Linked DNA regions of Homo sapiens: regions 1, 2, 4 and 5 are each linked to region 3. The links come from fine-mapping of genetic effects on gene expression. A gene starts in region 3. Each other region holds a variant in brackets. All regions are shown on one strand. Distances are between the middles of the regions. Region 1 holds the start of LOC124903065 (a long non-coding RNA gene). Region 2 overlaps CHFR (checkpoint with forkhead and ring finger domains). Region 3 holds the start of GOLGA3 (golgin A3). Region 4 overlaps GOLGA3 (golgin A3). Region 5 overlaps POLE (DNA polymerase epsilon, catalytic subunit).

Region 1 (6,316 bases), 79 kb before region 3:
GAAATGCAAAACTTCCATTGCTAGATTAGAAATAGACCCAGAATAGTCAACACAGTATTGAAGGAGAAGAGCAATGTTGGGGAGCTGACACTACCCAACTTCAAAATTTCCTATAAAGCGATAGTAATGGAGACACTCTGATACTGGCAGAAGAATGGACAAAGAGGTCAGTGGGGCAGAATAAAGAGCCCAGAAGCAGCGCCACACAAATATAGTCAACTGATGTTTGACAAAGGAGCAAGGGCAATGCAATGGAGAAAGGATAGTCTTTTTAGCAAATGGTGCTGGAAAAACTGGACATCCACAGGCAAAAATGTGAATCTAGACAAAGACCTTATACCTTTCACAGAAACTAACTCAAAATGGATCAAAGACCTGAATGTGAAATGCAAAACTATACAACTCCTGGAAGACAGCACAGAAGAAAATCTAGGTGATCCTGGGTTTAGTGATATTTTCTCAGATACCATACCAAAAGTACAATCTGTGAAACAAAAAACTGATAAGTTGAACTTCATTAAAATTTAAAACTTGTGGCCAGGCGTGGTGGCACATGCCTGTAATCCCAGCTACTTGGGAGGCTGAGGCAGAAGAATCACTTGAACGCGGGAGGTGGAGGTTGCATGGGGCCGAGATCGCGCCATTGCACTCCAGCCTGGGCAACAAGAGCAAGACTCCGTCAGGAAAAAAAAAAAAAAGGGCCAGGCGTGGTGGCTCACGCCTGTAATCCCAGCACTTTGGGAGGCTGAGACGGGTGGATCACAAGGTCAGGAGTTCAAGACCAGCCGGGCCAAGAGACCAGCCTGGCCAATATGGTGAAACCCCGTCTCTACTAAAAATACAAAAATTAGCCGGGCGTGATGGCGGGCACCTATCATCCCAGCTACTTGGGAGGCTGAGGCAAGAGAATTGCTTCAACCCGGGAGGCAGAGGTTTCAGTGAGCCGAGATCGTGCCATTGCACTCCAGCCTGGGCAACAGAGCGGGACTCCGACTCAAAAAAAAAAAAAAAGTAAACTATAAACTTCAGTTAATAATAATATATTAATATTGGTGTATCAGTTGTAACAAATGTACCAGAGTAATATGAAACGTAAATATAGGGGAAACACTATGGTAGAACATAAGGGGAACACTAAGGTAGAAAGGGATGGGGGGAACTCCTTGTTCTTTCCAGTTGATTTTTCTGTAAACCCAACACGCTCTAAACAAAAATAAAATATATTAATTTTTTTTTAGTGCAACTAAACAAGGTCCATGAAAAAGAGAATATTGGGTGGGCGCGGTGGCTCATGCCTGTAATCCCAGCACTTTGGGAGGCTAAGGCAGGAGGCTCGCTTGAGACCAGTCTGGGCAATAGAGTGAGACCTCGTCTCTATAAAAAATTTAAAAATTAGCTGAGTGTGGTGACACACACTTGTAGTCCCAGCTACTCGGGAGGCTGAAGTGGGAGGATTGCCTGAGCCCAGGAGGCAGAGGTTGCAATGAGATTGTGGCACTGCACTCCAGCCTGGGTGACAGAAAGAGACCCTGTCTCCAAAAAAGAAAAAAATATTACAGGTTGGTCTTAGGATATATATTTTTAAATCCTGGTGAAGGATAAGTGAGCTTTTCTCAGGGAAGCAGGTGGGACAGAGGGGAATCACTTTGGGAGTGGCCTCCCACTAGTGACCTCACAGACCCCCTCACTGACCCGGCAGACCCCACATCACTGACACGTAAGACCCCAGATGACGAGGCCTGCACATCTCCTGTGACGGACAGCTGAGACCCCGTACCACTGCCCGGACCCAGCCCTGGCCCAATGGGGCTCGCACCTCCAAAGCCCACGTCCACACGTTCCGAGCCCGCCGTCCCATCGCAAACATCCGGGGGCCGCCACTGCGCCTAACGACCGCCCATCTCTGACGCCTCGGGTCGGCGTTTGATTTTTAACCCAAGAAAAGAGTAAAAGTCAAGCGGAAATCAACGCAGAAGCGGTGCTGCAGCCTCTGAGCTTCCTGACGGCCGTGTCCAGAGCCGGGCTCCTCCTCCGGCGGCAGCCGCCGGGCTCACTTCAGTGCGCTCAGCTTCTCGCGGGGACAAGCGTCTGGGCGGGGACGGCCCGAGGCGGGGGTGTGGCGAGGCTGGAGAACGCTGAAAGCTGGTGGGCTTGGGAAGACAAACGACGCTCTGAAATTTGGCTCCCAGGTAATACGTTCCGGCACTTCGCGGCGGCTCAGTCAGCGCTGCTGGGTTCCACCCCTCCTATGCGTTGCTCAGGGACAGGTTTCTTAGTGACAGGCCCCTCACTATTCCCATTGGCCAGGACGCCCAAGGCCCACGCAGCCGTTGGCTAAAATTGTTGTCTGTTTCAGACACGTTGGCGAATTCCCCGCCTCTACGTTGCCGGGAGACAGCATGTTGCCTAGCAGCGTGCGGCTCCCATTGCCTTTGGGCGCGGCTCTCCGCCCCGACCCGCCCCTCTGGGACCCATCCGGGTCTGCGCCTCAGCTAGACAGGGCGGGCTGCGGCGCGCAGTCTTAGGCGTGCGCTTCGGGGAAGGGGCCCTCGCGTGGGAGGAGCGCGTCTGCGAGGGATGCGCCGGCGCAGGCGAGACCCGGAGCCGCGTGGTCTCTGCGCAGTGCGTCGTGTGGGGCGGCCGACCCCGGCCCGGGTTTCCCTGCTCGTTTTCGTCCGGGCGGGCGTCTTGGTTCCCGTTCCAGGCCAGCCCCATCCTAGGTCGCTGCTTCATCCAGCGCTTGGGGCATTTGTGTCGTTGGCGTTGTTTTCCTCTTAACTACAAACTTTAAATGTGTTCATCTACTCGTGACGGCGAGTTTAGCAGACTTTCATTCCCAGAAGACGTGTCACACGATCTGTATATTTTTCATACAGAAATTGACGGACGTCGTTACTTCTAAATTTCCACAGGGGCTGGTTCATCCCGCGGCTTTACCTAGAGAAAAACGTCTGAGGCCGGGCGCGGCGGCTCCCGCCTGTAATCCCAACACTTTGGGAGGCCGAGGCGGGCGAATCACGAGGTCAGGAGTTCGAGACCAGACTGGCCAACATGGTGAAACCTCGTCTCTACTAAAAATACAAAAAAAAAAAAAAAAAAAAAAAAAAAAAAAAATAGCCGGGCGTGGCGGCGCATGCCTGTAATCCCAGCTACTCAGGAGGCTGAGGCAGGAGAATCGCTTGAACCCGAGATGGTGCCACTGCACTCCAGCATGGGCGATAGAGCGAGACTCCGTCTCAAAAAATAATAATAAAATAAAAACCATGGACAATGGGAGGAGAACATCACACACCGGGGCCTGTCGGGGGTGGGGGGCCAGGGGAGGGATAGCATCAGGAGAAATACGTAATGTAGATAACTGGTTGATGGGTGCAGCAAACCACCATGGCACGTGTATACCTATGTAACAAACCTGCAGGTTCTGCACATGTACCCCAGAACTTAAAGTATAATTTTAAAAAGAGAGAGAGAAGCGTCTGAGCGT[T/C]TCTCAGGGACGGCGGGTGGCAGCCAGGACGGGCTGGGGCGGTGAAGTGCGGGGCGGGAAGCGACGCGTGCGCCTCCTGCGCTGGCTTCTGTGAAAGGAGGGACTGATTGGAGATCACTGCTGAAAAGTGGACTACGCATCAGTGAATAGTTAGTGAAATATGAGCTTCTACATTCAAAACCATTTGTGCTTTAAAGATTTTGTTTCACCATGGTATCGTATTTATCTGAATCCTATGTTGCTTTTGCTTTGTAATCTGAATTGTCTGTCACTCCCCCAGTCTCAGTTTTTTGTTAACTGTTCAATATTCATAGAAATGTCTCTACATGGGACCCTTTAACAGAGAGAGTAATCTGTCATAGCAAGTATTTCCTGAGTAGTTTCACTGATTCTATGTTTTTAGCAGGTCAATGTTTTCCTGGTTAGTTTTATGATTTTATCTCAATTTTTACCAGTTTGTAACCAGAACTGGAGTATTAATGAGAAGATATATAATTGTAAGTAAATATTCTATTTATTAGAAGAATAAATCACCCTGACAGTCAACAAATAATCTTTTTAAAATTTTTCATTGATGTATTGATTTATTTATTAGAGGGAGAGTCTCTGTCGCCTCATCTGGAGTGCAGTGGTGCCATCATAGCTCACTTCAGCCTCGAACTCCTGGGCTCAAGTGGTCCTCCCGCCTTAGCCTCCCAAGTAGCTGAGACTACAGGCACGTGCCACTGCGTCAGGCTGATTTTTGTATTTTTATTGGAGATGAGGTCTGCCTAGGTTGCCCAGGCTGGTCTCAAACGCCTGGGCTCAAGCCATCCTCCCGCCTCAGCCTCGCAGAGTGCTGGGATTAGAGGCACGAGCCACCACACTCGGCAATAATAACAATCTTTTTAATGGATCCACTCAAACAAAATAGAACCTGCTCAACTAAAATTTCCTGTCTATCCTCAAATAATATTAAAAACCATCCTATCTTAATATGAATTACCCTAAAATCTATTATTGGCAAATATAAGTTTTCAGTACATCAGTGAATGCTGAAGTTAGTTATATTGGGGAAACTGGCTTTTGAAATATATTTTTTAATCGATTGTAGATAGCATTGTGTGTTCAGAAGCTGTGATGGAAGTGGCATTCTACACCGGACATCTGCTGATACAATACACATCTCTATAGAATCTACTTATTATAAGGACCACTTCATGTATTATCATTATGAAAATCATGATCTGCGAAAATAGGAAGAAAATTAAAGCTAGAAATGTATGTGATTTAATCTCTCTGTTTTGGCTGGCCTCAATTCTGCAGCTTCCTAACACGTTTGAAGCAAGGGTCCTTGCCTGTGATTGTATTATTAATACATTCTATGTAAGCTTAGTTTAAATGATATTGTTCCAGCCAGGCGTGGTGGCACCTATAGTAACAGCTACTCAGGAGGCTGAGGTGGGAGGATCCCTTGATCCTAGGAATTCGAGGCTTCAGTGAGCTATAATGGTGCCAGTGCACTCCAGCCTGGGTGACAGCAACACCCTGAAAAAAAATTAAAAATAAGATAAAATGATATTGTTCATGTGAAAGAATGCCCATTCTTTTGCAAAGATAGTGCTCTTTTGGTAGCTTTTAGAAGTTTTGGATTTGGAAGTTGAGTTCTTCAAGTTCATTATTATTCAGGGTTGTATTTACAATTCTAGGTTTACAAACAGTTTGTCAACATCTACGAAATTAATTGCGGGGATTTTTGTCGGAGCGGCACCAACTCTACAGTTGGGAAGAATTGACATCTTAGCAATATTGTGACTACAATAATGAAAAAGGAGTATGCTCCGGTTATGTTTTCCTTTTTTTTCTCTCTTTCTCTCTCTTTCTTTTCCGTCCCTCCTTTCCTTCCTTCCTTCCCTCCCTCCCTCCCTTAAGATAGAGTCTCCCTCTGTTCCCCCGGCTGGAGTGCAGTGGCCCCATCATGGCTCACTGCAACCTCCCTCTCCAGGGCTCAAGCCATCCTTCCATCTCAGCCTCCCGAGTAGCCGGGACTACAGCCGCACACCACCAAGCCAGTCTAATTTTTGTATTTTTAGTAACGACAGGGCTTGGCCATATTTCCCAGGCTCCTCTGGACTCCTGACCTCAGGCGAGCCCTCTGTGCTCCGGACCTTCCGGAGTGCTGGGATTACAGGTGTGAGCCACTGCGCCGGCCTACGTTTTCTTTTAATAGTGTTTCATAGTTTTCTGGATACAGATGGTTTCATATTTTGTTAGAGCAAGGATTTCTTGGATTTGTTGTATCCAAGGATTTCTTTTTGTTGTTTTATTGCAAACGGTAGGCCTTTAAAGTTTTCCAGTTTCAGTTGACTTTAATATATTGGCTTTGTACTTTTGCTTCTTGTTACCTCCCCCACTCCTATCAAGCCACAGAAGAGGAGGCTCCACCGCACTTTTGATCTCCAAAATTATAGTTTAGGAGATACGGTTCAGAAAAGAGCGGGGAGGCGCGCTTCTTTCGCTGATGGGGTGCGCTCAGCTCCTGCGCTGCCCCTGGTGGCCGGCAGGGCGCGCCCAACCCTACGATTGTGGCTCGTGGCGCGCATGCGCATTCCGCCCGCGGCGTCGCCACAGGGTGAGGGAGCTTGGCTTCCTGAGAAGCCACCCAGGAGCCCCGGCTTGGGGATGACTTGAGGCCGCGTCTTCGGTGAGGAAAAGCTTCCCAGAGGAACTCTGCCGGGGAATCTCTAGAGTCATTGTCCTTTTTTAAAAATGTTTTTATAGGCCGGGCGCGGTGGCTCTCGCCTGTAATCCCAGCACTTTGGGAGGCCGAGGCGGGTAGATCATGAGGTCAGG
Region 2 (6,316 bases), 32 kb before region 3:
TGTTTTTTTTTTTCAAATAATAACACTTACATTTGAATACTGTAAGCTAGATATGTATTATGCTGTAATATGATAAACTAAGTCTTTATTAAGATATAGGTTATTCACACCTGTAATCCTTATTCACACCTGTAATCCTTATTCACACCTGTAATTCCAGCACTTGGGGAGGCCGAGGTGGGTGGATTGTTTGGGCTCAAGAGTTTGAGACCAGCCTGGGTAAAATGGCAAGACCCTGTCTCTACCAAAAATACAAAAAACAATTTAGCTGGGCATGGTGGTGCACACCTGTAGTCCCAGATACTCAGGAGGCAGAGGTGGAAGGATCGCTTTAGCCCAGGAGGCAGAGGTTGCAGTGAATGAAGATCTCGCCACTGCATTCCAGCCTGGGTGAAGAGTGAGACCCTGTCTCAAAAAAAAGATAGAGGTGATTAGAAAGTCTGCCTGTTTTTCTGCCAAGGTCATTCCTGTCGTTATGACTCTGGCTTCTTGCTCGTGGAGATAGCGCTCTCCCTACAAGTCACTGTGCTGTATCCTTCCCGTTATCACACCTCTTGTAAAATAGTTCACACGCAGCACCATCTCCACCCGTTGGAAGCTATGCATCCCTCCACTGGAGCATCTGTGCTTTACACAGACTTCTGTTTTTTTTTGTTTGTTTGTTTTGTTTTACTTTGTTTTTTTGAGACGGAATTTTGATCTTACTGCCCAGGCTGGAGTGCAATGGCGCGAACTTCGTTCGCTGCAACTCCGCCTCCTGGGTTCAAGCAGTTCTCCTGCCTCAGCCTCCCAAGTAGCTGGGTTACAGGCATGTGCCACCACACCCGGCCAATTTTGTATTTTTAGTAGAAATGGGGTTTCACTGTGTTGGTCAGGCTGGTCTCGAACTCCTGACCTCAGATGATCCACCCACCTTGGCCTCCTGAAGTTCTGGGATTACAGGCATGAGCCACCGCGCCTGGCATTTTTTTTTTTTTTTTAAGAAATGAGGTCAGGCCGGGCGCGGTGGCTCACGCCTGTAATCCCAGCACTTTGGGAGGCCGAGGTGGGTGGATCACGAGGTCAGGAGATCGAGACCATCCTGGCTAACACGGTGAAACCCTGTCTCTACTAAAAATACAAAAAATTAGCCGGGCGTGGTGGCGGGCACCTGTAGTCCCAGCTACTCAGGAGGCTGAGGCAGGAGAATGGCGTGAACCAGGGAGGCAGAGCTTGCAGTGAGCCAAGATCACGCCACTGCACTCCAGCCTGGGTGACAGAGTGAGACTCTGTCTCAAAAAAGAAAAAGAAAACAAAAGAAATGAGGTCTTGGCCAGGCACAGTGGCTCATGCCTTTAATCCCAGCACTTTGGGAGGCTGAGGCAGGTGGATCATGAGGTCAGGAGATCGAGACCATCCTGGCTAACACGGTGAAACCCTGTCTCTACTAAAAATACAAAAAAATTAGCTGGGTATGGTGGCGGGTGCCTGTAGTCCCAGCTACTTGGGAGGCTGAGGCAGGAGAATGGCGTCAACCCAGGAGGCGGAGCTTGCAGTGAGCCACTGCACTCCAGCCTGGGCAACAGAGCAAGAGTCCGTCTCAAAAAAAAAAATGAGGTCTTGCTCTGTTGTGCAGGTTGGGAGAGTGATGTGGTCATGGCTCACTGTAGCCTCGAACTCCCGGGCTCAAGTGATCCACTCACCTCAGCCTCCTGAGTAGCTGGGACCATATGCTCGTACTGTCACGCCTAGTTAATTTTTTTTTCTTTTTTGTATTTTTTGTAGAGATGGTGCCTTGCTGTGTTGCCCAGGCTGGTCTAAAACTCCTGGGATCAAGTGATCCTCCCACCTTGGCCTCCCAAAGTATTGTGATTACAGGTGTGAGCCCCATGCCCAGCCTCAGACCTCTATTTTTTATTTTTATTTTTTTTTCCCCAGAGGGAGTTTCGCTCTTGTTGCCCAGGCTGGAGTGCAGTGGCACGATCTTGGCTCACTGCAACCTCCGCCTCCCGGGTTCAAGCAATTTTTCTGCCTCAGCCTCTTGAGTAGCTGGGACTACATGCACTCGCCACCACGCCTGTCTAATTTTTTTGTATTTTTAGTAGAGATGGGGTTTCACCATGTTGGCCAGGCTGGTCTCGACCTCCTGACCTCAGGTGATCCACTTGCTTCGGCCTCCCAACGTGCTGGGATTACGGGTGTGAGCCACCGCACCCGGCCCAAAGCTCTGTTGTAACAAGTTTATGACACAGTGTGTATCATATGACCACGGGTATGTGGGTTTGCCCTGCGTTAGACTCGGTGCTCGAGGGCTAAGCCTGGTCACAGACATCTCCGCATTTGTTTCTCTGCAAATGGGCTCCTTGCCCCCAGCTCCACCCCACGTAGAGATAGGCACAAATAGAGTTAAGATGTGAGTTGAGTGAGCACACACTCCTCGTAAGCCACTTGTCATTCCTAAACTACGACATCTCAGGCTGCCAGCTGCACTGGGCTCCAGTCAGTGACACCTTACAGGCATGGTTCTCTCCTGAGCTGGATGGATCAGCACCTATCTTGTTTGATTCCTCTCACAGGGTCTGGGGGTGGTGGCATCTCCCCTAAAGGAAGTGGTCCCTCTGTGGCAAGTGATGAAGTCTCCAGCTTTGCCTCAGCTCTCCCAGACAGAAAGACTGCGTCCTTTTCGTCGTTGGAACCCCAGGATCAGGAGGATTTGGAGCCCGTGAAGAAGAAAATGAGAGGAGGTTAGTGTCTGGTTGTGTGTGTCCTCAGTCCTCTCGTGTGCTCCTGGGGCATGCGGGGGCCGCTGCCATGC[T/G]CCGTGCTGTGGGGCATTGCTTCCTGCAGGGGCATGTGGACCCTGCCTCAGGTTGATGCCTGTAACACCTCCGGCATTTTCATTCAGAAAACCTGGGCCTGTTTTTTTGCGGTTTGCATAATCCAGATAGAACTGTGATTTGCTACAGGCTGTTCTCTTGGTCTGGAAATAGTGCATTCTGAATTGCAGAATTAATCTCAAAATCCTCCTTCCTGGCCAGGTGCAGTAGTTCATATCCGTAATCCTAACACTGGGAGGCCAAGGCAGGAGAATCACTTGAGGTCAGGCGTTCGAGACCAGCCTGGGCGACAGAGCAAGACTTTATCTCTAAAAATAAAAATCAAGCCTGACACCGTGGCTCCCGCCTATAATCTCAGCACTTTGGGAGGCCAAGGTGGACGGATCATCTGAGGTCAGGAGTTCAAGACCAGCCTGGCCAACATGGTGAAACTCCGTCTCTACTAAAAATGCAAAAATTAGCTGGGTGTGGTGGTGCATGCCTGTAATCCCAGCTACTTGGAAGGCTGAGGCAGGAGAATTGCTTGAACCCGGCAGGTGGAGGTTGCAGTGAGCCAAGACTGTGCCATTGCACTGCAGCCGGGGCAACAAGAACAAAACTCCATCTCAAAAAAAAGAAAATCAAAAAGAAAGCCCTCTGTCCTGGTAGGACAATAATTTCTAAAAATGTAGCTTAAATCTTCACATTGAAGATGATTTAGGGAGAAGTCTGCACTTTGAAAGCCAAAGTTAAGATTATTAGAAAACATTTGGGAATGTTATGGTAGAAGCATTGCTGTATAGCAGTCCAGAGAGCAGCCAGCCACTGGGGCACTGTGACAGGAAGGTTCTAGGAGGGGTCCCCAGGGAAAGAAATTAGGTTATCTGACACGTGGGGTTGATCGGTGTGGGGAAGGTGTGGAAAGAGTCAGCAACAGTTACACAGGAAAAATAAGCACAGGAATGAGGAAATTTTAATTCTAGCAAACATGAAAAATTGTGTAAGTCACACAACTTAATCTAGTAAACTACTTGGCTCAGCAGTGAATACTTGCATAAGCATAATAATACAAATACAGTATCATGAACTAATGTAATCTGTTAATGTAATGTTGGCAGGGGTGTCTCAGGACAGAGTTTTTCTCTACCTTAATAGATGTCAGGAATGATGTCTAAAATTGATAAATCAAATGTACCATGATAACTTAGAAACACAGAGGTAAATACCAGAAGAAACAGCTCAAAGACATGAAAATAGTTTTCCTCCGAGGAGGGAAATTGGGTGAGGAGCGGCTGAGACGGAGGGTGACTGCCTTTGTTTTCTTCTAAATATATTATGTATACATTTTTTTAAGAGACAGGATCTTGCTTTGTCACCTAGGCCAGAGCGCCGTGGTGCAGTCTTGGCTCACTGCAGCCTCCACCTCCTGGGCTCAGACTGTCCTCCCACCTCAGCCTTCCGAGTAGCTGAGACCACAGGTGCACGCTACCATAGCTGGCTAATTTTTTTTCCCATTTTTTTAGAGATGGGGTTTCATTATATTGCCCAGACTGGTCTTGAACTCCTGGGCTCAAGCGATCTGCCCACCTCAGCCTCCCAAAGTGCTGGGATTACAGTTGTGAGCCATTGCACCTGGCTTCTTCTAAATACTTGGCTTTTTAAATTGTGTACAGTTTCTTTAATTAAAAATAAAAATTAATTGATTACCAACATCTGAGCATTATAGAAAAATAAAAACACCAGAAGAGGGTGGGGCGCGGTAGCTCACACCTGTTACCCTAGTACTTTGGGAGGCCGAGGCGGGTGGATCACGAGGTCAGGAGATTGAGACCATCCTGGCTAACACGGTGAAACCCTGTCTCTACTAAAAATACACAAAATTAGCCGGGCGTGGTGGTGGGCACCTGTAGTCCCAGCTACTCAGGAGGCTGAGGAAGGAGAATGGCATGAACCCGGGAGGCGGAGCTTGCAGTGAGCCGAGATCGCGCCACTGCACTCCAGCCTGGGCGACAGAGCGAGACTCTGTCTCGAAAAAAAAAAGACTGCATGTATTTCCTTCTCGGTTACGACAGTTAGAACACATCCCTTTCTCCTGTGGACGGGGACCTTGACCTGAACCTGCGTGTATTTCCTTCTTGGTTACGACAGAACACATCCCTTTCTCCTGTAGATGGGGACCTTGACCTGAACGGGCAGTTGTTGGTCGCACAACCGCGTAGAAATGCCCAAACCGTCCACGAGGACGTCAGAGCAGCGGCTGGGAAGCCAGACAAGATGGAGGAGACGCTGACATGCATCATCTGCCAGGACCTGCTGCACGACTGCGTGAGGTGCGACCGTGTTCACCCTTGGCTCACGGAACATGGCACTGCAGGTTCTTCGTCCCGTGTGGGGCAGGGCTGGGCATGAGACAAGCCTGCAGGTCCTGTTTGGCCTGGCATCTGCTGAGGTTACTCTGTCACCCAGATAAGTGGGTGGAGTGGGTGGAGTGGGTGGAGCTTTCTCAGCCCACTGCAACCTCTCCCTCCCAGGATTGAGCGGTTCTCTGACCTCAGCCTTCTGAGTTGCTGGGACTACAGGTGCACACCACTATGCCTGGCTGACTTTTTTTTTTTTTTTAATGTTCTAAATATTTTTTATTCCTTTTTTTTTTTTTTTTTTTTTTTTTTTTTAGATGGAGTCTCGCTCTGTCACCAGGCTGGAGTGCAGTGGCACAGTCTTGGCTCACTACAACCTCAGCCTCCCGGGTTCAGACGATTCTCCTACCTCAGCTTCCTGAGCAGCTGGGACTGCAGGCGTGTGCCACCATGCCCGGCTAATTTTTTTGTATTTTTTAGTAGAGACAGGGTTTCACCATGTTGGCCAGGCTAGTCTTGAACTCCTGACTTCAGGTGATCTGCCCACGTTTGCCTCCTAAAGTGCTGGGATTATAGGCGTGAGCCACTACTCCCAGCCACCCTGCTGATTTTTGTGTTTTTTGTAGAGACGGTTTCGCCATGTAGCCCGGGGTGGTTTTTTGTTTTTGTTTTTGTTTTTTGGAGTTAGAGTCTCGCTCTGTCACCCAGGCTGGAGTGTAGTGGTGTGATCTTGGCTCACTGCAACCTCCACCTCCCAGGTTCAAGTGATTCTCCTGCCTCAGCCTCCCAAGTAGCTGGGACTACAGGCATGCGTCACCACATCTGGCTAATTTTTTTGTATTTTTAGTAGAGACGGGAGTTTCACCATATTAGCCAGGCTGGTCTCGAACTCCTGCACTCAGGTAATCTGCCCACCTTGGCCTCCCAAAGTGTTGGGATTACAGACGTGAGCCACCCCGCATGGCTACCACTTTCATTCTACTCGTGGCACCAACAAGGAGGAAACCTGGAACCCAGAGCCGGAGGCTGTAGACCCCACAAGTTTTGAGTGTGTGGGTCGTGTGTGACCCCGTGAACTCTGCAAACAGATGAAAGGAACTCTGCACATTTTAAATGCTCCTTATCTGGGAAGGTGTATTTCGCATAGAATGAACGTAGGAGCCGCTG
Region 3 (6,316 bases):
CATCTACCCCTTTTTAGTCATCCGAACCCCACCACCACTCTATAATGCTGTCATTTTGTGACATAAGTGGACACATCGTACAGTTCATGCAGTGTAGACCTTCGGAGATGTTTTCCTCCCTGGATGTAATGCCTTGGAGCTTCGTCCAAGTTATTGCACACATCAGTGGTCAGCTCCTTTTTATTGCTGAGTAGTGTCCATGGCATGGGTGGTCCACGGTTTGTTTCACCACGTCAGAGTGGCATGGGTGGTCCATGGTTTGTTTCACCACGTCAGAGTGGCGTGGGTGGTCCACAGTTTGTTTTGCCACGTCAGAGTGGCGTGGGTGGTCCACGGTTTGTTTCACCATGTCAGAGTGGCGTGGGGGGTCCATGGTTTGTTTCACCATGTCAGAGGACATTTTGGTTGTTTCCAGTTTGGGGTCAGTAATGTACAGGCTTTTGTGTAGACATAAGTTTATTTCTCTGAGTTCAATGTCTAGGAATGCAGTTGCTGGGTCATAAAATTGTTTACTTTTTGAAGAAACTGCCCAACTATATTCCAGAGTGGGTGCACTATTGCTGTTCCCATCAGCAATGTATAAGAGATTAGTTACTCCAGAATACATTATTCCCAGCATTTCATATTGCCACTGCTGTATATTATTTCAGCTGTTCTAATAGGTGTATACTAATATCCCAAGGCAGTCTTTTTTTTTTTTTTTTTTTGAGACAGAGTCTGACTGTGTCACCCAGGCTGGAGTGCAATGGTGTGATCCCAGCTCACTGCAGCCTCCACCTCCCAGGTTCAAGCGATTCTCCTGCCTCAGCCTCCCAAGTAGTTGGTATTACAGGTACCTGCCACCATGCCCAGCTAATTTTTGTATTTTTAGTAGAAGCAGGATTTCACCATGTTAGTCAGGCTGGTCTCGAACTCCTGACCTCAGGTGATCCACCTGCTTCGGCCTCTCAAAGTGCTGGAATTACAGGCTTGAGCCACCGCGCCTGACCTCAAGATAGTCTTAATGTGCATTTCTGTAATGGCTAGTGATGCTGAACCTGGTCACAAGCTTATTTGCCACTCATATATCCTTTTAGTGAAATGTGTTTTCATGTTTTTTGCTTGTCTTCTGTTTGTGTGTGTGTATGGTTTTTTTTTTTTTGAGATGGAGTCTCATTTTGTCACCCAGGTTGGAGTGCAGTGACACAATCTCAGCTCACTGCAACCTCCGCCTCCCAGATTCAAGCAATTCTTGTGCCTCAGCCACCCAAATAGCTGGCATTACAGGTGTGCGTCACCACGCCTGGCTAATTTTTGTATTTTTAGTAGAGACAGGGTTTCTCCATGTTGGCCAGGCTGGTCTCAAACTCCTGGCCTCAAGTGATTTGCCCCCTTAGCCTCCCAAAGTGCTGAGATTACAGGCATGAGCCATTGTGCCCAGAATAATTGTATTTTTTTTTACTGTCAAGTTTTGAGAGTTCTTTATATATTCTAGCTACTAGTCCTTCAACAAACGTGGTTTGAAAATATTTTCTCACAGTCTGTAACTCATCTTTTCATCCTCTTAATGTGGTCTTTCTCACAAGGTTGGTTTGTTTGTTTTGAGATGGAGTCTCGCTCTGTCGCCCAGGCTGGAGTGCAGTGGCACGATCTCAGCTCACTGCAACCTCTGCCTCCCAGGTTCAAGTGATCCCCCTGCCTCAGCCTCCCGAGTAGTTGGGACTACAGGCACACACCACCACGCCCAGCTAATTTTTTTGTATTTTTCATAGAGACAGGGTTCACCATGTTGGCCAGGATAGTCTTGATCTCTTGACCTTGTGATCCACCTGCCTCGGCCTCTCAAGGTGCTGGAATTACAGGCGTGAGACACTGTGCCCGGCTTTTTTTTTTTTTTTTGAGACGGAGTCTTGCTCTGTTGCCCAGGCTGGTGGCACGATCTCCGCTCACTGCAACCTCTCCGCCTCCTGGATTCAAGCGATTCTCCTCCAGCCTCCTGAGTAGCTGGGATTACAGGCACATGCCACCATGCCCGGCTAATTATTATATTTTTAGTAGAGATGGGTTTCACCATTTGGCCTGGCTGGTCTCAAACTCCTGACCTCAGGTAATCCGCCCACCTTGGCCTCCCAAAGTGTTGGGATTACAGGCGTGAGCCACCGCATCCGGTGAAAAGTTTCTAATTTTTTCATGAAGTTTACTCTATCAACTTCTTTTGTGAATTGTGTTTTTTTGGTCAGATCTAAGAACTCTTCCCCAAGCTCTAGATGTGAGAAATTCTGTTTTCTTCTAAAAGTTGTATATTTTACGCCTCAGTCTGATCATTTTGTGTTAGAATTTGCATTTGCAGATAACATGATGGCCCATGTAAAAAATACAAGGATTTTACAACAACAACCGCAAAACACCAAATGAACCCTCAAACTAATGAGTTCAGCGAGGTCTCAGGATAAGAAAATCAACATAGAATTCATCACATTTGTGTAGACCAACAGTGAACACGTGGAAAACGTCAAAAACGCAGTGTTACAGTTGTTTGATGTGAAATACTATAAACTTAAAAGGTGCAGAATCTGTATGCTGAAATTACAAAATGCTGGTGGAAGAAATCAAAAGACCGAAATAAATGGAGGGGCCACCAGGGACGCAGATGAAGGACCGAGTCAGCGATGCCCGTGCTCCCCAAACGATCTGCAGCAGTTCCCATCAAAATCCCAGAAAACTTCGTAGACTGAAGCGTATTCCAAAATCCGCAGAGATGAGCGCAACATCACAGAGGACCCCGAGGCGCCCTCCAGGCCATTTCCTTCCTGACAGCTGGAAGAGCGGCCTGGCGGATGAGGGAAGGTGGAAAGCCGTTCCCCAGCGGCCAGCGGCCCGCGCCGTCCAGCTTTGCCCTTTTTAAAGGGGAAGCAAATAGGGTCCAAAGCAGCGTCGCCTTTGATCTGGCACCTGAAGCGCGAAGGGCGCCGGCCGGGTGGAGGTGCGGGGTTGGGGCGGGGACCCGACTAGGGCGGGCGGGGAAGTCACGCCCACACCGAGCTCGGCCGCGCCCATGCCGAGCCCCGGCCACGCCACTTCCGCCGGAAGCTCGGTTCAGCTTCCTGAAAGAGTTGGTCCTGCAGTTCCGGAAGTTGCGTTTCTACTAGGGAAAGGTCCGCAAACTCTTAAGGTCACTTTCTGAAGGCGGCCTCATCACAGTCGGAGGTGAGCTCGATCCGGACCCTGTGGGCAGAGGGTCCCCGGCCCTAGGGTGGCCACTTGAAGAAGAGGAGGACGTTCTCTGTTCCGGAACGAAAGTAGCGCGTGCAGGCTGTTTCCGGGGACCCGAGGCCGATGCACCGCTCGCCCCGCCCCTCTCACGGCCACGTCTCCGCCGGAGCATCCGGGCCGGGCGGCCTCCGGGGCTGCCAGAGCAGCAGGGTGAGGGGCTCGGAGGCCGCGGCGCCTCGGGGCTCGGGCTCCCGCTCCCGCTCCCGCTCCCGCAGTGCATGGGCGGGGGAGGCTCGAGGGGCGGCGGCGGGGCCTGGGCGCGTCCCTGCAGCGTGGCGGGACGGCCCCGTTCCAGTCACCCCCGCCTCGCTGCGGTGGCCTCGGGCCTGGGCGCCCGCCTTCAGCTGCGGCGGAGCTGGCTCTGTAAATGCCGGTGCCCGCGAGCCCTCCTGAATGCTTGTCTGCGCCCGACGAGCGCGGCCTGTCCCGAAGCTGTCCACTGCCACCACTCGGGCAGTGCTTGCTTTAGCCTGGCCCTTTGCAGCTGAAAGGCGTGACATGGTGTCGGGTGGTTCGTGGGAAGTCGGGGTTTCAGGAGTCCGTGTACTTCCTTGTTTGTCTTTGTCGCTGGCCGACTTGTCTTCATTCCAGGTGGCCAGAGCGAGTGGGGCCGGGCGTTGTCACGGGTATGAACCCGACGAATGTCAGTCGTGTGGCGGGTCCTGGGTATTGTGGGTCTGGGTCACTGCCCCCGCGGAGCCCACCTAGGACAGGGACACCCAGGGTCGCCAGCGAGAGGGTACCGGGCGGTGGTTGGGTGGGGTCCGCTACTCTAAGTGGGAGCCTGGGGGGCGGGCGACTTCCGTGCTAAGGCCTCTATGACGAGAAGCAAGCCAGGCAAAATTGTGAGAAAAGCGCGCCTCAGGCAGAAAGTTTGAAGACCCTGAGGGCGGAGGATGTGGCCACAGTGTAATGGCAAAGGGGGAAAGCGATGGCGGTAAGGATGTTGGTGTAGGCAGGTGCTGGATTCTTAAGAGGTTGGAGTTTATTGTCACTGGGCCAGTGTAAGCCATTTACAGATGACTCATGGATTTTTTTTTTTTTTTTAAGAGACTGGGTGTGTTGCTGTATTGCCCAGGCTGGTGTGGAACTCCTGGCCTCAAGCGATCCTCCCACCCCAGCCTCCCAAAGTGCTGGTGTTACAGGTGTGAGCAGCCACACCCGTCGTCGTGGATTATTTTGAACTGTCTTTTAAACGACATCAACATAGCGCTTTATAACCCTTTAATATCTTTTCAGGCAGTATACCTTAAATGGCAAGAAGGAAATAAATCATCTGACATCACTCAGATTGAAGAGGAGCTTTTTTTCCCCCGATTGCCTTAAGAAGTAGCATACTTTCCCAAGTGAGAATGCCTTCAGTTGGCTTTTAGCGATTTTGACAAGCAACAACTAAAGGGAAAATCGTGATAATTACTGTCATTTTATTGAGGACACGGGACAGACTCTGTGCCTTGTTATATTTAATCCTGGCAAAATTTTGCGTTCATTTTCTCATTGTTTTACTGGTGAGGAAACAGGCTAAATGTGATTAAGAAATCTTTAGCCCAGGCTCTCACAGGTAAGTGGTGGAGGGTCGGGAGCTGAGGCCGGAGTCCTGACTTCCAAGCCTGCCCTTCACGTCTCTGCAGTGACATGAGGCTTGCTTGCTTTTGGTTTTCACTTTGTGTATAGATCTGTGTTTACTTTTGGATACTAGTGTGGCCTCCACCAGGTACTCTTTTCCTGAGGAAATCGTGTTTGGTTTTTGGCTGTGCTCTGTTGTTTCTAATACCCGATAGGAACAGGTGAAACGAGGTGGTGTAGATGGAGCCGTGAATGTTTGTATACAGAATTCAGGTGTGGGGGAAGCAGAAAGTCCTGTAGGTGCCTGAGGTGGTGGTTTCTCAGTATGAAGTCCCTTGATGTTACCCAGCTGTGAACCTAGGGTTGTGTGTACCTTTCGCAGTTCTAAGTGACAGCTTTGTCCTGTCTCTTCTCTCTAGAGACGCAGGAGTGCGAGTGATCATAAGTGAGACTGATTAGACTGGCCTCTTTATTTAAAATAGAGCCATGTTTGTAGTACCAGCTTTCTGTGATGCACTGGCAGTTGCTCCTCCTCCTCGCTGCCCGGAGATCGCTTTTTGTCAGTAGTCTGAGGTAATGAGGCCCTGACGACTGAGTCATTCCAAATTTTAACTAAAAATCAAGCAAGACTGGGAATCGACCGAGACTGCCAGCTTATTGCCCTACAGGGAGAAGTATCACTGTCACCAAACTCCAGGCAGTTAGTGAATTCTCTCTCTGGTCCGGCTTCAGGAGGAGCTGCCTGTAAAGAGGGGCCGTCTTTGTGACTTACAGTCACCGTCATGGGGTCTCTGTTCTGGAGAGGTGGGCTGCTTGGACACCAGCAGGGGAATTAAGTGAGCAGAATCTGTGATTGCACTGGACTCAGCTCGGTGCGGTTGGCTGTCACCATGTTGGCGTGCCCTCTCGGTGGAACCTGAGCGTCTTTGGCTGTGTTCCTTCTTGGTCAGTGTAAGGCCCAGGCGTCGTCACTGTGGGCCTCTGCAGCAGTTCTCCTCTGCAGCAGTTCTCCTCTGCATGTTCCACCTGTAATGGCTGAGTCCAGTCCTGCTGGTCATCCCATCCTTCCTTCTGTTCAGGTGGTGGTGCCTGTCTGGGCCGTGGCCGTGATGCTGCTCTTCCAGTTTCTTTTTTTTTTTTTTTTTTGGAGAATGAGAAAATAACTTTATTTCATTGTGGGGAGCGGGCTGATGTCCAGCCTCAGAACTTCTGGAACTGCTTCTTGGTGCTGGCAGCCTTGGTGACCTGGAGCACGTTGAGGTGCACTGTCTTGCTCAGAGGCCGGCAAGGCCGGCACTCGCCCACTGTGACGATGTCACCGATCTGGACGTCCCTGAAGCAGGGGAACAGGTGTACAGACATGTTCTTGTGGTGCTTCTCGAAGTGGTTGTACTTGCGGATGTAGTGCAGGTAGTCTCGGCGGATGACAGTGGTCCTCTGCGTCTTCATCTTGGTCACCACGCCAGAGAGGATCCGCCCTCGAATGGAGACATCACCA
Region 4 (6,316 bases), 48 kb after region 3:
ACAAAAATTAGCCGGGTGTGGTGGCGGGTGCCTGTAGTCCCAGTTACTTGGGTGGCTGAGGCAGGTAAACCGCTTGAACCCAGGAGCGGAGGTTGCAGTGAGCCAAGATCGCGCCACTGCACTCCAGGCTGGGCGACAGAGTGAGACTCCGTCTCAAAAAAAGAAAAACGTCAGATATCTCAGGTTCAGAGACAGTTCTCGCTTCAGCGCTGCTGGTGGCAGCTCAGTGTCCCGGCGCCCCCCACTCCCCAGCCCCTCCCTGTGGAGCTCCGTCACAGTAGGGCCGCCTGTTCCACTCTCTGGCTGTGTCCTGCCCTGAAGTGGTTTTGCTCATGCCCACCCTGCTGAGTGGCCTAGCCAGGGCTCAGTGCCTGGACAGACTTCTCCAGAAGCCCATGGCCCCAGGAGAAGGCTGGGCTCTTGGCCATGGGGAGGAATGAGAGGGGCCTGGGGAAGCAACTGACCATGACCACGACAGCCTTCAGATCATGAAGCAAGCACGGTCCTGTGGTGTCCATCGCAGGGTTGTGTGGTGTCCATTGTTCTTTGTTTTTGTTGTCTTGAGACAGAGTCTCACTCTGTCATTCAGGCTGGAGTGCACAATCTTGGCTCACCACAGCCTCCACTTCCCAGGTTCAAGTGATTTTCCCGCCTCATTCTCCTGAGTAGCTGGAACTACAGGTGATCGCCACCACACCTGGATAATTTCTGTAGTTTTGGTAGAGACAGGGTTTCATCATGTTGGCTAGGCTGGTCTCAAACCCCTGACCTCCCAAAGTGCTGGGATTACAGGTGTGAGTCACTGCGTCCAGCCCATTGCTGTGTTTTAGTTTTCGATGTTTCTTTTCTTTTCTTTTTCTTTTTTTTTTTTTTTTTGAGACAGAGTCTCGCTGTGTTGCCCAGGCTGGAGTGCAGGGGCACAATCTCAGCTCACTGCAACCTCCACCTCCTGGGTTCAAGCGATCCTTCTGCCTCAGCCTCCTGAGTAGCTGGGACTAAAGGCATGTGCCACGATAGTGGCTAATTTTTGTATTTTCAGTAGGGACGGGGTTTCACCATGTTGGCCAGGCTGGTCTCAAACTCCTGACCTCAGGTGATCCCCCTGCCTCGGCCTCCCAATGTGCTGTGATTACAGGCGTGAGCCTCTGCGCCTGGCCTAAGTTTTCGCTGTTTCTTGTTGAAAACTCACCTGTTTCTGGGGTATGTGAACTCCACTCACCAGTGCAGGTAATTTTACAGTGACATTGGTATGTTTCAGCTTCAAGAATCCAGAGGCTTTAGGAAGAAGATAAAACGCCTTGAGGAGTCAAACAAGAAGTTGGCTCTTGAATTAGAGCACGAGAAAGGGAAGCTTACGGGCCTCGGTCAGTCCAACGCAGCTCTGCGGGAACACAACAGCATCCTAGAAACAGCTTTGGCCAAGAGGGAGGCAGACCTAGTCCAGTTGAACCTTCAGGTATTCAAACTCGTCAAACTCACGCCAGCAACGGTGTGAGAGTTGGTGGGGCTGTGCGCACTCCGAGAATCTCATCCAGATTCAGTCACCTGTGCTGACTCCTAGCCCACCCGGCCTGCAGCCGAGAGAACAGGCTCAGGAGTCCGGGTGACCCACGGCCCTGGGTCCCCAGCTGTTGGTGCAGGGCTGGGCTCTCCGAGGGGAGGAACAGGCTCAGGGGTCTGGGTGACCCACAGCCCTGAGTCCCCAGCTGTTGGTGCAGGGCTGGGCTCTCTGAGGTGAGGCTGGAGCCCCTGCGTGTGCTCAGTTCACCTGTTTAGTTGAGGGGCAGACCTGCTTAGTCGGGGGGCAGACCTGCTTAGTTGGGGGGCAGACCTGCTTAGTTGAGGGGTAGACCTTCCATGTGGGTGTGGCTGAGTTCCAGTCCCAGACGGTGACATTGTTTGTAGGGGGCACTTAACAAGAGGTTCACACAATTCAGAACTGGGACTTGAACCCTGACCTGGTTCTCACTCAGCTACTTAGTCTCCACAGCCTCTCTGAATTGAGGACTAGGCTGGGCATTTCAGGGAAATCCTGGGGGCCAAATCGAGCTGCTGGTGTTGACTATCCCATCTTAGTTCCATATTTTGCCCTAGTTCCCACCACTTCTGTTCTTTTTGTACCCGGCTGCAGCCCCTGATTTGTATGTAGTTTTTGAGTTCCCAGCCACCATGTTCCATTTTTTTGTTGTTGTTGTTGTTAGTAATACGGAGTCTCACTCTGTCTCTCAGGCTGGAGTGCAGTGGCACGATCGCGGCTCCCTGCCTCCCGGGTTCAAGCGATTCTCCTGCCTCAGCCTCTGGTATAGCTGGGACTACAGGCGTGCACCACCGCGCCCAGCTAATTTTTCATATTTTTAGTAGAGACAAGGTTTCACTGTGTTAGCCAGGATGGTCTCGATTTTCTGACTGTCATCCGCCTGCCTCGGCCTCCCAAAGTGCTGGGATTACAGGTGTGAGCCACCGCGCCCGGCCCATTCTTTTTTTTTTGAGACAGGGTCTGGCTCTTGCCCGGAGTGGAGGGCAGTGCGGTGGAGGGCACTGCGGTGGTACCATCATAGCTCACTGCATCCTCAACCTCCTGGGCTCCAGCGATCCTCCTGCCCTGGCCTCTGGAGCCGTGGGGCCCACAGGCGTGCCACGTTCTTGAGTGCGGCCCTGTGATCATGCTCCCGCAACCTAGGATTCTGTTTTTGTCACAGATTCTTCAGCAGTGAAGTTCCCTCTACCTCCCTGGCGTGTGCCTGTGATGTGGCGTGTGTCACGTTGCCTGCTGTAGCAGCCTTGTGTGTTTGTAATTCGACGTCCTTCCTTATCTGTCCTCCTGCAATCTGATCTAGGTGCAGGCAGTTTTGCAGCGCAAAGAAGAGGAGGATCGCCAGATGAAGCATCTTGTCCAGGCCCTGCAGGCCTCACTAGAGAAGGAGAAGGAGAAGGTGAACAGCCTCAAGGAGCAGGTGCGTGCCACCTTCCGTCTCACAGGGCGTTCCAGAGGACGCTCCAGTGCCTAGAAATCTATGCAGGGTCCTTCACACACCAGCCTCCTTCCAGCAGTTACACAGAGCAAAGGTGTGTTGCAGTTGTTGGTGACGGAGGCCGCAGAGCACCTGCTCTGGTCCGTAGAAGGTGGCGTTAGATTAAATGGCAGTGCAGCTGTGAGGGCCTGGGGCCAATGAGCTCCGCGTGCATGTGTATTTATATTGTGCTGGGAGTGGTGTCCTGTATGTCGTGTTGCATTGCAAAAGCAAACTTGAGAATAGCATATGATCCCATTTGTGTTCGGCAGATAAGAGGGGTGGTTCTGTGGACCCTTCTCTGTGTAGAGAGCTGTCTTTTCGTGGCTGGCCCCTGCCCTGCTTCAGGTGTTCACTGACACGTTGGTCACGTCGCCAGCAGAGGCCCATCCTGACCCCCAGGTGCCCTGTCTGGGCCCTGCTCCTCTGTTAGAACGCTGCTGCTTGCTGGCTACCTCCGCCATACCTGGCACAGAGCAGCTACTCCTAGTACGCTTGCCGTGTGTGTGCACATGGGGGGTGTGCGTGCACGTGTGCCTGGGGTGTGGTGTGTGTGCACGCGGGGGGCTGTGCATGCAAGTGTTGTGATGTCTGTACACACGTGTGCCTGGGGTGTGTGCACGCGGGGGGCTGTGCGTGCAAGTGTGATGTCTGCACACACGTGTGCCTGGGGTGTGTGTGTGTATGTGCGCGGGGGGGTGTCCGTGCAAGGGCTGTGGTGTGTGTGCGCACGTGTGTGCCTGGGGTGTGTGTGCACGCGGGCTGTGCGTGGAAGGGTTGTGATGTCTGTATACGCGTGTGTGCCTGGGTTGTGTGCATGCGGGGGGCTGTGCGTGCAAGAGTTGTGATGTCTGTACACACGTGTGTGCCTGAGGTGTGTGTATGTGCGCGGGGGGGTGTCCGTGCAAGGGCTGTGGTGTGTGTGCACACACGTGTGTGCCTGGGGTGTGTGTATGTGCACGGGGGGGGTGTCCATGCAAGGGCTGTGGTGTGTGTGCGCACGTGTGTGCCTGGGCTGTGGTGTGTGTGCATGCATTTGATGCTGATGTATATGTAGAAAATTTCTAGGAGGAACACAAGAAATAACTGGTTGTCTCTAGAGAAAGGCAGGAAAGAACACATCACTTTTCCTTTAAATCCCGTTTGAATTGAACTTGTAAAAAAGTAATTGCTTCACAATTCAAACTTTTCGGCCTAACAGTGAAGCTGCTTTCGTTCCTATGACCTGGCTTTGCCACAACCTTTAAGAACTTTTCTATGATAATGTAATTGAGATGAAAAGAAAAAGGTTCTTGATTTTTTTTAAGGGGTGAAACAACAAAGTTTCTTTATAAATAGAATTAATTTTAAGATGTGGCAGGTGGCTGGGCGCGGTGGCTCATGCCTGTAATCCCAGCACTTTGGGAGGCTGAGGCAGGCAGATCACCTGAGGTCGGGAGTTCAAGACCAGGCTGACCAACATGGAGAAACCCTGTCTCTACTATGAATACAAAATTAGCCTGGCGTGGTGGCACATGCCT[G/A]TAGTCCCAGCTACTCGGGAGGCTGAGGCAGGAGAATCGCTTGAACCAGGAGGCGGAGGTTGTGGTGAGCCAAGATCACACCATTGCACTCCAGCCTGGGCAACAAGTGGGAAACTCCGTCTCAAAAAAAAAATGTGGCTGGAATATTTTAACAGGAGCAGTTAACAGCTTTCTCTTGGCCCCACAGGCCTCATCCGCCCGGCCGTTTAACCCTGGCCTGGGGCCTGCTGCTGGGCCGTGGTTCAGGCTGGCTCACACGGTGCCCCAGCTCTCCAGCTTTCGCTCCGTGCTTAGGGTTCACTGAATTTTTTTCGGTTTTTTTTTTTTCAGACGGAGTCTCACTTTGTCACCAGGCTGGAGTGCAGTGGCTTAATCTTGGTTCACTGTAACCTCTGCCTCCCGGGTTCAAGTGATTCTCCTGCCTCAGCCTCCCCAGTAGCTGGAACTACAGGCGTGCACCACCATGCCTGGCTAATTTTTTGTATTTTAGTAGAGATGGGGTTTCACCATATTAGCCAGGATGGTCTCAATCTCCTGACCTGATGACCTGCCCGCCTTGGCCTTCCAATTAATTTTATTTTTATTTTTTAAATGTATTTATTTTATTTTATTATTTTTATTTATTTATTTGTTTATTTTTTTGAGATTTTGAGATGGAGTCTCGCTCTGTCGCCCAGGCCGGAGTGCAGTGGCGCGATCTCGGCTCACTGCAAGCTCCACCTCCCGGGTTCACGCCATTCTCCTGCCTCAGCCTCCTGAGTAGCTGGGACTACAGGTGCCCGCCACCACGCCTGGCTAATTTTTTGTATTTTTAGTAGAGACGGGGTTTCCCCGTGTTAGCCAGGATAGTCTCGATCTGACCTCGTGATCCACCCGCCTCGGCCTCCCACAGTGCTGGGATTACAGGCGTGAGCCGCCACGCCTGGCCTATTTATTTCATTTTTGGGACCGGGTCTCACTCTGTCACCCCAGCTGGAGTGCAGTGGCGCGATCACAGCTCCCCTGCAGCCTGGAACTCCTGAGCTCAAGTGATCCTTCCACCTCAGCCTCCTGAGTACCTGGGACCACCATGCCCTGCTAATTTTTTTATTTTTTGTGGAGACAGGGTCTTGCTATGTTGTCCAGGCTGTGAATACACTGGAAGAAGACTATAAAAACTATTTAGACCGAGAAATCTCGAATAAATGTGTTCATTCAACAGATAGCAGCAGCCACATAAGTGTGCACTTGCTGCGTGCCGAGCTCCGGGTCAGGTGGTTTCATCTTTACAAGGAACTTGACAGGCCTGTGGAGAAGCACACGCCGGCAGCCAGGACATGCACGGGGCCGGGAGTGCATTCACCCCCTGCGCCCGGCACGTCATAAAGCTGTGGGTGTCACGCAGGGCATGGACAACGTGGCTTCCTTCCTCCTAGGTGGCTGCTGCCAAGGTGGAAGCCGGGCATAACCGCCGCCACTTCAAGGCGGCCTCCTTGGAGCTGAGTGAGGTGAAGAAGGAGCTGCAGGCCAAGGAACACCTGGTGCAGAAGCTGCAGGCCGAGGCCGACGACCTTCAGTGAGTGCCTGGGCCCCGCCAGCCCTCAAACATGGCTGTCCTGGCAATGGGCGGGGTCTAATTCACACCTTCAGCACAGCGAGGGTCATCTATATTTTGCAAATTGCCGAGTACTTGAGTGAATCATAGGAGTAGAAGGCACCCAGCCTCCGTCTCCAGAATCCTGAGCCTCACTCACTGCCCCGTGTCCTCCCCCCAAGAGAGAAAGCGCCCCAGCAGGAGTACTTAGC
Region 5 (4,000 bases), 160 kb after region 3:
TCGTCTCACTGTTGTGCTAGAATCCTGCCGCCTTTGACTTCCTGCTGCAGCGGGTTGAGAAGACCTTGCGCCACGCCCTTGAGGAAGAGGAGAAAGTGCCTGTGGAGCAAGTCACCAACTTTGAAGAGGTAACCATCAGGGAGGCAGGAAGAGCCAGTCTGTGTTTGGCGCCTTCTTCACAGACCACGTCTTTCAGCAGCACGTTTATTGTGCACCTGCTGCGTGTGGTGCTGTGGACGGATGACACAGGGTCTCTGGTGGGACAGGGCAGTCATGGTTGTGACGTGTGATGCTGTCACAAGGTCGGAGGGCTTCATGAGAGGTGGGGTGTGAGCTGCTCCTGAAATGCAGTAACATGGAAGGTGGGTCCTGGTGGGATGTATCCCGTGTCCTGTTTTAAAGCATTAGGACTTTATTTTATAGGCACTGGGGAGCCATTGGAGGTTTTAAATTTTATTTACTTTTTGTTGTTGAGACTTAAAAATGACAGTAAATTCCTACAAATGACAGGATTAGTGACTGTAAAATCTGTTTACATAATGGTTAGAAAGCACACTTACAAAGTGTGTTATGTGACTGGAGAGGGAGACACCAGTTCTTCTCTGATCCCTGTTCCTCAGGACATGGCACATCTCAGGTCTTTTTTTTTTTTTTTTTTTTTTTTCCCTTTTTGAGATGGAGTCTCGCTGTTGTTGGCCTGGGCTGGAGTGCAATGGCATGAGTTTGGCTCACTGCAACCTCTGCCTCCCGGGTTCAAGCAATTCTCCTGCCTCAGGCTCCCCAGTAGCTGGGATTACAGGCATCCGCCACCACACCTGGCTAGTTTTTGTATTTTTAGTAGAGACAGGGTTTCACCATGTTGTCCAGTCTGATCTTGAACTCCTGACCTTGTGATCCGCCTGCCTTGGCCTCCCAAAGTGCTGGGATTACAGGTGTGAGGCACCGCGCCTGGCCTATCTCAGGTCTTTATGTCAGGCACTGTGCAGCACTACATCATGTTCAGTGAGGTTGCTGGTTTAGAGTTTTTAACAGTTTTCACATTGATGCCAAGAAACTTTTTTTTTTTTTTTTTTTTTTTTTGAGACGGAGTCTTGCTCTGTCACCCACACTGGAGTGCAATGGCATGATCTCGGCTTACTGCAACCTTTGCCTCCTGGGTTCAAGCGATTCTCCTGTCTCAGCCTCCTGAGTAGCTGGGATTACAGGTGCCCACCACCATGCCTGGCCAATTTTTGTATTTTTAGTAGAGATGAGGTTTCACCACGTTGGCCAGGCTGCTTTCGAACTCCTGACTGTAAGTGATCTGCCCACCTCAGCCTCCCAAAGTGCTGGGATTACAGGTGTGAGCCACTGTGCCTGCCCTCAAGAAACATCTTGTAATAGATTCACTAGTCAAAATTTAAACAAGAATATGTGTACACTCTTGGCAAGCTGTGAAGCACTGTTTGGCTATTGTCAGCCACATCCATTATTATACTTCAGGGAACTCTTATGAACCGATCAGGAAGAGAGCCTTGTCTGAATAACAAATAGGAGTTAAAGAATGTCGGCCATGGCCGGGCACGGTGGCTCACGCCTGTAATTCCAGCACTTTGGGAGGCCGAGGTGGATCACGAGGTCAGGAGATTGAGACCATCCTGGCTAACACGGTGAAACCCCGTCTCTACTAAAAAAATATAAAAAAATTAGCCGGGCGTGGTGGCGGGCACCTGTAGTCCCAGCTACTCGGGAGGCTGAGGCAGGAGAATAGCAAGAACCCGGGAGGCGGAGCTTGCAGTGAGCCGAGATCGCTCCACTACACTCCAGCCTGGGCAGCCTGGAATCCCAGCATTTTGGGAGGCTGAGGCGGGTGGATCACCTGAGGTCAGGAGTTTGAGACCAGCCTGGCCAACATGGAGAAACCCCGTCTCTACTAAAAATACAAAAAAAAATTACCCAGGCGTGGTGGCGAGACGTCTCAGAATCTGAGACAGAGTTTCACTCTTGTTGCCCAGGCTGGAGTGCAATGGCATGATCTCGGCTCACCACAACCTCTGCCTCCTGGGTTCAAGAGATTCTCCTGCCTCAGCCTCCTGAGTAGCTGGGATAACAGGCGCTTGCCACCACGCCTGGGTAATTTTTTTTTT[G/TG]TATTTTTAGTAGAGACAGGGTTTCTCCATGTTGGCCAGGCTGGTCTCGAACTCCCGACCTCAGCTGATCTGCCCGCTTGGCCTCCCAAAGTGCTGGGATTACAGGCGTGAGCCACCGCGCCCGACCTAGAAGCAGATATTTAAAGTCTTTAAGAAACAGTGAGATGGGCAGGTAGAGTGAGGCTGGAGGTGTGGTAGATGTGAGGATGCCAGGCTCCCTGGTGAGTGAGGAAGAGAGCTCTGTAGATGTGAGGACGCCAGGCTCCCTGGTGAGTGAGGAAGGGAGCTCTGTAGATGACATTGTCCTGTTAGCGATTCCTAAGTCCTCGCAAGTGCCCTTGAAAGGGAAGCCCAGGATCGCCTTTGTGTCCCTGAAGGGTCACCTGTTGGGCGGAGGGTGGCTGGGGGGATGTCAGCAGGGGCTCACAGCCACGTGGGGCATGTCCAGGTGGTGTCCCCACCATGGAAACTTGGCCATTCACTTGTCCCAGCCCATCCTCCCCTTCTTGACTGGACAGCCTTTCAGAACACGCCGTTACTGGGCAGAGAAGGGTGCAGTGGAGGCTCTTCCCCGGCTGATTCGTTTATCTGTAATTCAAGTAGAAACAATAGGTGTTACTGTTGTGGTATTTCCTGTTCTATGGAATAGATGTTATTCCTTGTAATCACTTTTTTCTTAAAATTTTAGGTGTGTTTTCTATTTTTACTACTTTGGAGGGTTTTAAGGATTTTTCTTTTTCTTTTTTTTTTTCTGAAACAGGATCTGGCTCTGTTGCCCAGGCTGGAGTGCAGTGGTGCAATCTGGGCTCACTACAGCCTTGACCTCACGGGCTCAAGCGATTCTTCCACCCCAGCGTTCCGAGTAGCTGGGACTACAGGTGCCACCGCCACACACGGCTAATTTTTTATTTTTTATAGAGACGGGGGTCCCACTGTGTTGCTCAGGCTGGTCTCGAACTCCTGGGCTCAAGTGATCCTCTGGCCTCGGTCTCCGAAAGTGCTAGGATTACAAGCATGAACCACTGCACCTGGCCTAAGGATTTTTTTTAATACTAAGGAGAGTTTAGTGTTCAAGTAATTTTCTAATGACTCCACCAAATTTAATGTATTTCATAGAAATGATGGCAACCCTTCTTAACTTTTTTCTTCTGGCTAGTTTTTGCTCTATTTATATATTTTTCAGCTTTTTCCTCTCCTGAATGTCTAAAAGGGGTTGGTGAACTGCACACGAGGCAAGCTTGGTCACCAGCCTCTACTGAGTTTCGCTTTCTCTGCAGGTGTGTGATGAGATTAAGAGCAAGCTTGCCTCCCTGAAGGACGTTCCCAGCCGCATCGAGTGTCCACTCATCTACCACCTGGACGTGGGGGCCATGTACCCCAACATCATCCTGACCAACCGCCTGCAGGTGAGACTTTACTTCCCGTGTCAGAGTCGGAGCTCTCTCTGCCCAGCCCTAAGTGCTTTCTCACCCCTCCCAGCCCTCTGCCATGGTGGACGAAGCCACCTGTGCTGCCTGTGACTTCAATAAGCCTGGAGCAAACTGCCAGCGGAAGATGGCCTGGCAGTGGAGGGGCGAGTTCAGTGAGTGTCGGCCGCCTGGGTGGGCACTCGGTGGGAAACGGGTGGGTGAGTGTCGGCCGCCTTTCTCCACTTGGTGGGAAGCCGGTGTGTCTGTGCCTCCTTTTGAACTTGCCCCCATTGCCTCCTTCCCAGTGCCAGCCAGTCGCAGCGAATACCATCGGATCCAGCACCAGCTGGAGTCAGAGAAGTTCCCCCCCTTGTTCCCAGAGGGGCCAGCTCGGGCCTTTCATGAACTGTCCCGCGAGGAACAGGCGAAATACGAGAAGAGAAGGCTGGCGGGTGAGTGCCTGGG

The links. PIP is the estimated chance that this variant, and not a neighbour inherited with it, causes the effect.
Region 1: its variant is the best candidate, but not a certain one, in a credible set for the expression of GOLGA3 in whole blood (INTERVAL, PIP 0.62).
Region 2: its variant is the best candidate, but not a certain one, in a credible set for the expression of GOLGA3 in whole blood (INTERVAL, PIP 0.54).
Region 4: its variant is the best candidate, but not a certain one, in a credible set for the expression of GOLGA3 in atrial appendage (GTEx, PIP 0.77).
Region 5: its variant is the best candidate, but not a certain one, in a credible set for the expression of GOLGA3 in whole blood (INTERVAL, PIP 0.84).

The regions. Positions count from the first base shown.
Region 1 is chr12:132,904,649-132,910,964 of GRCh38, reverse strand. It overlaps LOC124903065 (a long non-coding RNA gene), which reads right to left and starts at 2,297. Exons shown (of 2, transcript XR_007063553.1): 1 at 1,817-2,297. RefSeq lists a silencer at 2,524-2,573. The variant T/C (reference allele first, on the strand shown) is at 3,485.
Region 2 is chr12:132,857,874-132,864,189 of GRCh38, reverse strand. It overlaps CHFR (checkpoint with forkhead and ring finger domains), which reads left to right. Exons shown (of 18, transcript NM_001161346.2): 7 at 2,556-2,723; 8 at 4,963-5,122. Among named protein-coding and RNA genes, the nearest start is that of CHFR, 27 kb to the left of the region's middle. The variant T/G (reference allele first, on the strand shown) is at 2,795.
Region 3 is chr12:132,825,889-132,832,204 of GRCh38, reverse strand. GOLGA3 (golgin A3) reads left to right here and starts at 3,336. Exons shown (of 24, transcript NM_001389683.1): 1 at 3,336-3,402. It also overlaps the pseudogene RPS11P5. RefSeq lists silencers at 2,819-3,028, 3,399-3,458, 3,959-4,058 and an enhancer at 3,109-3,248.
Region 4 is chr12:132,777,436-132,783,751 of GRCh38, reverse strand. It overlaps GOLGA3 (golgin A3), which reads left to right. Exons shown (of 24, transcript NM_001389683.1): 17 at 1,259-1,456; 18 at 2,838-2,954; 19 at 5,947-6,086. Among named protein-coding and RNA genes, the nearest start is that of ANKLE2, 19 kb to the right of the region's middle. The variant G/A (reference allele first, on the strand shown) is at 4,532.
Region 5 is chr12:132,668,343-132,672,342 of GRCh38, reverse strand. POLE (DNA polymerase epsilon, catalytic subunit) reads left to right here. Exons shown (of 49, transcript NM_006231.4): 16 at 21-128; 17 at 3,404-3,532; 18 at 3,606-3,708; 19 at 3,841-3,987. Among named protein-coding and RNA genes, the nearest start is that of POLE, 17 kb to the left of the region's middle. The variant G/TG (reference allele first, on the strand shown) is at 2,127.